Regions from separate parts of the Homo sapiens genome. Here region 1 is reported to be linked to region 2. The links are microRNA targets in miRTarBase. Many come from high-throughput screens and were not tested one by one. Region 2 holds a microRNA gene; the other region holds the end of a gene's coding sequence.
The links. The annotated mature microRNA hsa-miR-3620-3p reads UCACCCUGCAUCCCGCACCCAG and lies in region 2 at 1,642-1,663, shown strand. An mRNA with a match to its seed (bases 2 to 7 or 8) in the 3' UTR can be bound and repressed. Matches are read on the target gene's strand: a 7mer-m8 pairs with bases 2 to 8, a 7mer-A1 pairs with bases 2 to 7 and ends in A, and an 8mer does both.

Region 1 (3,000 bases), not on the chromosome of region 2:
GTGTTCCCAGGGCAAGCTTAGCCTCACCTGGGAGCAGGATCACAATCCCCTTCTCTGGCCAAAGGACACTCCTGCCAGGAGAGGATGCCTCATGGCCCGAGTCCTTGCCTCACTGGGGCTGCCTGGCTCAGACGGGACCTCTTACAGTGGCGCCTTTCCTGCCCTGGCACCCCCACCTGCCATGAGGAAACAGCCTCAGAGCACAGAGCCCTGACCCAGCTTGGCCCTGCCCACTCTGGTGATAGTGCTCTGTGGTCAGGGCCTGGACAATACCACCCTGAGACATTACCTAGACCCACTCTCCCCATTATACGGATGGGGAAGCTGAGGCCTAGAGAAGGAGTGGGCTCACCCAGGGTCACCCCGCTCGTCCATGACAGGACCAGGACTGCAGTCCAGGTACTTCTATGGCCTCAAGTTGTCCGTTGTTCCCATCTCTCCCCATGGCTGCTTCTTCCCAAGCTCCCATCCCATATGTCTCAAATATTCCCAGCCACCCAGAGTCCCATGGACTGCTCCATGCTTGGGGAGAAGGGAAGGACATCAGACACAGCTGAAAATGACACAGGAGGCAGAAGAATGCAGGAAGCATTTATTGAGGGCCAGAGCTGCATTCTACAAGAGGCAAGAGGCAGGACACAGGCAATCTCTAGTGGGTTAGAGGAGAGGTTGGGGAGAGGGCAGTGACAATGAGAGAACAGCCAGGCGCTGGCTTGGGAACTGCCGGTTTCTCAAGGCTGCCTCCTGCTAGTCCTCTGGGAAATGCAGGTAGAAATGGATCCTCTATGCTACTGCCTCAGCCAGAGGCCTGATGGTGTCCCTTCCCTGGGAGGGGCCCTTAGCCCCAGTCTCCTGTGCTACAAGGGACCCAGCAGCAGGTAGGGGCTTTGGTAAATATAGTCACTCATCATTAACTGAGTAAGAGCACCTTCTCATCTTCACAGCAGCAGGAGCATTCCTGAGGCCCAAGGAGCCCTCTAAGGTCACTCTTTCATTCCAAAGCACCCTGTCCCAACCCTATCTTCCATACTGACCTTAACTCCCTCCAGCCTCACTTGGGGGTTCCAGATCTAACATCACCCCGGTAAGTCCCAAACCCAAACTGTCCCTCACCTTTAGCAACATCCTGGTATCCTTTCACCTACATACGTTTGATCCTCAGCCAATTCCATACCCCCAGCTGATCCTGAAGCTAATATTCTGAACCTCTAGAAGGCTCTACCAGCCAACTCTGGAAACTACAGAACTCAGCCATATTCCTCCCTGAGTCCCCCCTGGGGACCTGAATCACAGCCACCAAGGTTTAGGGAACCAGTGAGGGCCTGCAGCCAGGCTCCCCCAGGTCACTGGGCACCAGGCACTAGCTAGGTCAGAGTGCACTGGGGAAGGGATGGGGCAGGATAATGTCTACTTTTCTGGGCACGATATGGACACTGGGACTGAGGTCTGACACTGAAGAAGGGGACATTTCCAAGGGGACCAGAAATACAGGCAGACCCTAACTTAACACCCTGCTCACGTACCCAAGCTCATCGGCCCCTAAATTCAAGCCCAACTAGCCCACCACCACCACCCACCCCCGACTTCCTAATATCATGGAATGCATTTCAAGACTGGAAGAGCCCTCAGGGGTCATCTGAGCCAATCCTGTCCCCTGCTAGAATCTCCTCTATGCATCCTGGCCATGCTTTTCATATTTCCCGTAACAAGTAACTCTTTGTCTCTCTCTTTCCCAATAAGCAACCCCAAACTGAGGGCAATCAGGTAAAGTCACATGGTAGCTCTGTATCTCTTCTCTCCCCAGTTCAGCTTTGAGCCCAGAACCTGCCATGAATGGGCCCAGAAGGAACAGATGAGCTGGAGGCCCAAGTCCTGGGCCTAAGGGAAATCACTGCCTTATAATTCTCTTATGGCTGCAGATAAGATGTCCTGGACAGTCTGAACTGGGATGGAGAAAGTAGCATGACAGGGACCCGGGGAGAATTTTCCTGCCTCTTCCCTCCAGAGGGGATAGTGGGACACCTTGAGCTGGCCTGGGAGACCTCTCTAAAGGTCATTGTGATAAAAATAGAGCTTGTCTGGGAAGGGATGGAAAACAGCTGCTCCTGCCTGGGACTTGGTGCCAGGGAGCCGGATGGTCAGGCCAGTGCCTGGACATGCGACACAGGCCTAGGACCTTCTGAACACACCCCGCTTGCCAGACTCCAGACAGCAGAGCCAGGAGGGGAGGGACGAGTATGGAACCCTGAAGGTAGCAAGTCCAGGGGTCCATATACACACTGCCCCGCCTCATCCAAGGCACTAACTAGTGTGTGTGTGTGTGTGTGTGTGTGTGTGTGTGTGTGTGTGTGTGAGAGAGAGAGAGAGAGAAAGAGAGAGTGTGTGTGCATCGGTGTGTGTACTGATGGGAAGGGGAATTTTGACGTTTGTGGATTGCCTTGGCCAAAGCCACCATTAAACAGATGGGAAAGCTGAGGGTCAAACAAGGAAGGGTCTTACCCAGGGTCACACAACAGCTGAATGAGAGCAAGGGCTAGAACTCAAGCTTGCGTCCCTAACCCATCCCCAACCCCAGAGCTCTCCTCTGCTGACCCCTCATCTCTGGGGCTGCCCAAAGAGGCCAGACCCTTTGGGTCCCCCAGGTCTAATGAGCCTTCTTCTGGCTCTGCCCTCCCGGGGTGGGGTCGGGGGTGGGGCTCTAGGTGGTGCAGGAGGCCTCGGCGGGGAGGCTGCCACGCTTGAGCCGAAGGCTGCCATTCCACCCGCGGGGACAGATATTGTAGCCCAGGATGCCTGGAGACTTAGCCCCGGAGTCCTCGGAGTCGAGGGACACGTCGGAGTCCGTGGGCGAGCGGCGGTAGAGGAAGGGCCTGGGAGGCGCGGGCAGCGGGCTCCGGGGACTGGTGCAGGACGAAGGACCGGCGGGCAACGGGCTCCGCGGGATGGGCGCGAAGGCTGCCCCCGGCACAGCAGCCGAGCCGGGGCGGGCGGGCTGTGGCG
Region 2 (3,453 bases):
GTTTTCTCTGCCTGGTCAATCATCACATCCAAGGTCTTCCTCCCTTTTCTCTCTGCCCTTCAAGGCGTGTGTGTCATTTTGGTGTCTTCATTGGTAGTGGTTGCAGGAGTGGACTGAGAGGGCAGGTATTCAGTCTCTTCTGTGCTCCATGGGTGGTGGTCTTCCTCTGGGCTTAGAAAACCTGGCCGTCCCCAAAAAGGGAACACTACAGTGAAGGTCCTTATAAATTTCAGAACTCATTTAAATTTCAGAATAGGTGACATGTTCAAAACCAAGAGCAAAGTGTCCAAAGGACACTGATCCAGCTTGAAGGGGTTCTGTGGCTCATCTGGGATGATGGCAGTGTTAAATCAGACACGGGCGGCCAGTTCACACCCACTGAAACACACAGGCATGTGTGGGCTCTTGCTGATGTTGAGAAATGGAGAAGAGGCATTTCCTTGCCGTAGCGTGCTGGGGTGACTGGATGAGAGAGTCACCAGCGGACAGTCATGGCTGTGATTCAGCCAAAAGCCACCTGTGTGTGGAACCCCTGGTGGAGGAGGTCTGATGAGGGGTGGGTGTGCTCACAGGCTCCTGGCATGTCCTCTTGAAGGCAGAAGCCTTCCTCACTCGGGGTAAGCCCCGCTTGCGGGTGCAGTGAAGAAGCAGTCATTGTTTCAGAAAGTGACCAGTGTTTTCTAAAGTCCCTGTTCGGGATAAAATCACCTGATTCGTGAAATTGCCCACTGGCCAGTGAGGCCAAAGCCTAACAACTTCAGTGTCCTCACAGAGGCGTCTGGGCAGTGGAGGCCCTTCCTGCTGGAGTCTCCGCAGGGCTCTGATGGTGGGTGCCAGCTGACTTAATTGCTGTCCCCGATATTTGTGTTCTGCTGAGGGAACCCCTACCCTTGCGGTGTGGGGCAGACATGGCGGGCGTGCCCCATCGAGGCTGTGTCCTCATGGGAGTGTGTCCCTGAAGGTGTCCTGCTGAGTCTGGCGTGGCCCTGTGTGCTCTGGTCCTTGTGAGTGTGGGCAGGCACAGTGAGTGGTGCTCTCTGGCCCTGGAAGGTTCTGTGTTGGGGTGTAGAGGAGCCTTGCACGCACCTGGAAGCCAGTCCTCAGGCAGCCAGCCTCCCCTCCTGCATAGGCTGGGATGAGGCAGCCTTTCTGGCCATGCAGCTGTGGGGACAGCTTCCCAAGATGAGGGCAACAGTTTCTCAATTCCTGACTCAGCCATTTTCCCTCAGCCCCCATCCTGAGGTGGATTTGGGGGGCATGGGAGGCAGGGCTCTTTCCCTGTTTCCCTGCAGGCTTCCAGGAGGTGGGGTGAGGCAGTGGTGCATCCCTGGGTGGGTGGGTTCTGAGCAACCACTGCTGGGCAGCACAGAACCAGACATGGAGCACCTTGTCTCTCCAGGTGTCCCTGGCCAGTGTCCTTCCACCTGTCCACAAGCATGGGGAACATCTTCGCCAACCTCTTCAAGGGCCTTTTTGGCAAAAAAGAAATGCGCATCCTCATGGTGGGCCTGGATGCTGCAGGGAAGACCACGATCCTCTACAAGCTTAAGCTGGGTGAGATCGTGACCACCATTCCCACCATAGGTGAGGTGGGGGCCAGCAGGGAGTGGGCTGGGCTGGGCTGGGCCAAGGTACAAGGCCTCACCCTGCATCCCGCACCCAGGCTTCAACGTGGAAACCGTGGAGTACAAGAACATCAGCTTCACTGTGTGGGACGTGGGTGGCCAGGACAAGATCCGGCCCCTGTGGCGCCACTACTTCCAGAACACACAAGGTAAGTGGCTGGGGCCTGGTCCCATGGGCACTCCTGCTTCTAGAGAGGGGGGGCCAGCCCATAGATGGGGCATCGATGCCCATAGATGCGGCAGGGGGGCTGTGTTCCCATGACCATTTGACACTGGCTGCCCGGCAGGCCTGATCTTCGTGGTGGACAGCAATGACAGAGAGCGTGTGAACGAGGCCCGTGAGGAGCTCATGAGGATGCTGGCCGAGGACGAGCTCCGGGATGCTGTCCTCCTGGTGTTCGCCAACAAGCAGGTAGGCGCCCGGGCCAGCCTGGGGAATGTGAGGAGCCAGTGTGGGTTCCGCCTGGTGGTAGGGGTTACTGGAGGCTGGTGGGGCCCCTTTCTCTGTCCTGTGGACAGCCCTTCCCACCAACCCTTCCTTCCCCCAGGACCTCCCCAACGCCATGAATGCGGCCGAGATCACAGACAAGCTGGGGCTGCACTCACTACGCCACAGGAACTGGTACATTCAGGCCACCTGCGCCACCAGCGGCGACGGGCTCTATGAAGGACTGGACTGGCTGTCCAATCAGCTCCGGAACCAGAAGTGAACGCGACCCCCCTCCCTCTCACTCCTCTTGCCCTCTGCTTTACTCTCATGTGGCAAACGTGCGGCTCGTGGTGTGAGTGCCAGAAGCTGCCTCCGTGGTTTGGTCACCGTGTGCATCGCACCGTGCTGTAAATGTGGCAGACGCAGCCTGCGGCCAGGCTTTTTATTTAATGTAAATAGTTTTTGTTTCCAATGAGGCAGTTTCTGGTACTCCTATGCAATATTACTCAGCTTTTTTTATTGTAAAAAGAAAAATCAACTCACTGTTCAGTGCTGAGAGGGGATGTAGGCCCATGGGCACCTGGCCTCCAGGAGTCGCTGTGTTGGGAGAGCCGGCCACGCCCTTGGCTTTAGAGCTGTGTTGAAATCCATTTTGGTGGTTGGTTTTTAACCCAAACTCAGTGCATTTTTTAAAATAGTTAAGAATCCAAGTCGAGAACACTTGAACACACAGAAGGGAGACCCCGCCTAGCATAGATTTGCAGTTACGGCCTGGATGCCAGTCGCCAGCCCAGCTGTTCCCCTCGGGAACATGAGGTGGTGGTGGCGCAGCAGACTGCGATCAATTCTGCATGGTCACAGTAGAGATCCCCGCAACTCGCTTGTCCTTGGGTCACCCTGCATTCCATAGCCATGTGCTTGTCCCTGTGCTCCCACGGTTCCCAGGGGCCAGGCTGGGAGCCCACAGCCACCCCACTATGCCGCAGGCCGCCCTACCCACCTTCAGGCAGCCTATGGGACGCAGGGCCCCATCTGTCCCTCGGTCGCCGTGTGGCCAGAGTGGGTCCGTCGTCCCCAACACTCGTGCTCGCTCAGACACTTTGGCAGGATGTCTGGGGCCTCACCAGCAGGAGCGCGTGCAAGCCGGGCAGGCGGTCCACCTAGACCCACAGCCCCTCGGGAGCACCCCACCTCTGTGTGTGATGTAGCTTTCTCTCCCTCAGCCTGCAAGGGTCCGATTTGCCATCGAAAAAGACAACCTCTACTTTTTTCTTTTGTATTTTGATAAACACTGAAGCTGGAGCTGTTAAATTTATCTTGGGGAAACCTCAGAACTGGTCTATTTGGTGTCGTGGAACCTCTTACTGCTTTCAATACACGATTAGTAATCAACTGTTT

Region 1: the mRNA of SYNPO is a reported target of hsa-miR-3620-3p. Seed matches in the 3' UTR shown: 7mer-m8 at 1,508-1,514 and 7mer-m8 at 1,003-1,009.

What each region holds. Positions count from the first base shown.
Region 1 is chr5:150,656,786-150,659,785 of GRCh38, reverse strand. It overlaps SYNPO (synaptopodin), which reads right to left. Exons shown (of 3, transcript NM_007286.6): 3 at 579-3,000. The coding sequence ends at 2,699. Among named protein-coding and RNA genes, the nearest start is that of MYOZ3, 3.0 kb to the left of the region's middle. RefSeq lists a silencer at 2,985-3,000.
Region 2 is chr1:228,095,679-228,099,131 of GRCh38, forward strand. It overlaps MIR3620 (microRNA 3620), which reads left to right and starts at 1,585; the gene lies at 1,585-1,663. ARF1 (ARF GTPase 1) reads left to right here. Exons shown (of 5, transcript NM_001658.4): 2 at 1,400-1,584; 3 at 1,664-1,774; 4 at 1,913-2,037; 5 at 2,174-3,453. The coding sequence starts at 1,437. The coding sequence ends at 2,335. RefSeq lists enhancers at 532-1,501, 1,502-2,471, 1,558-2,757.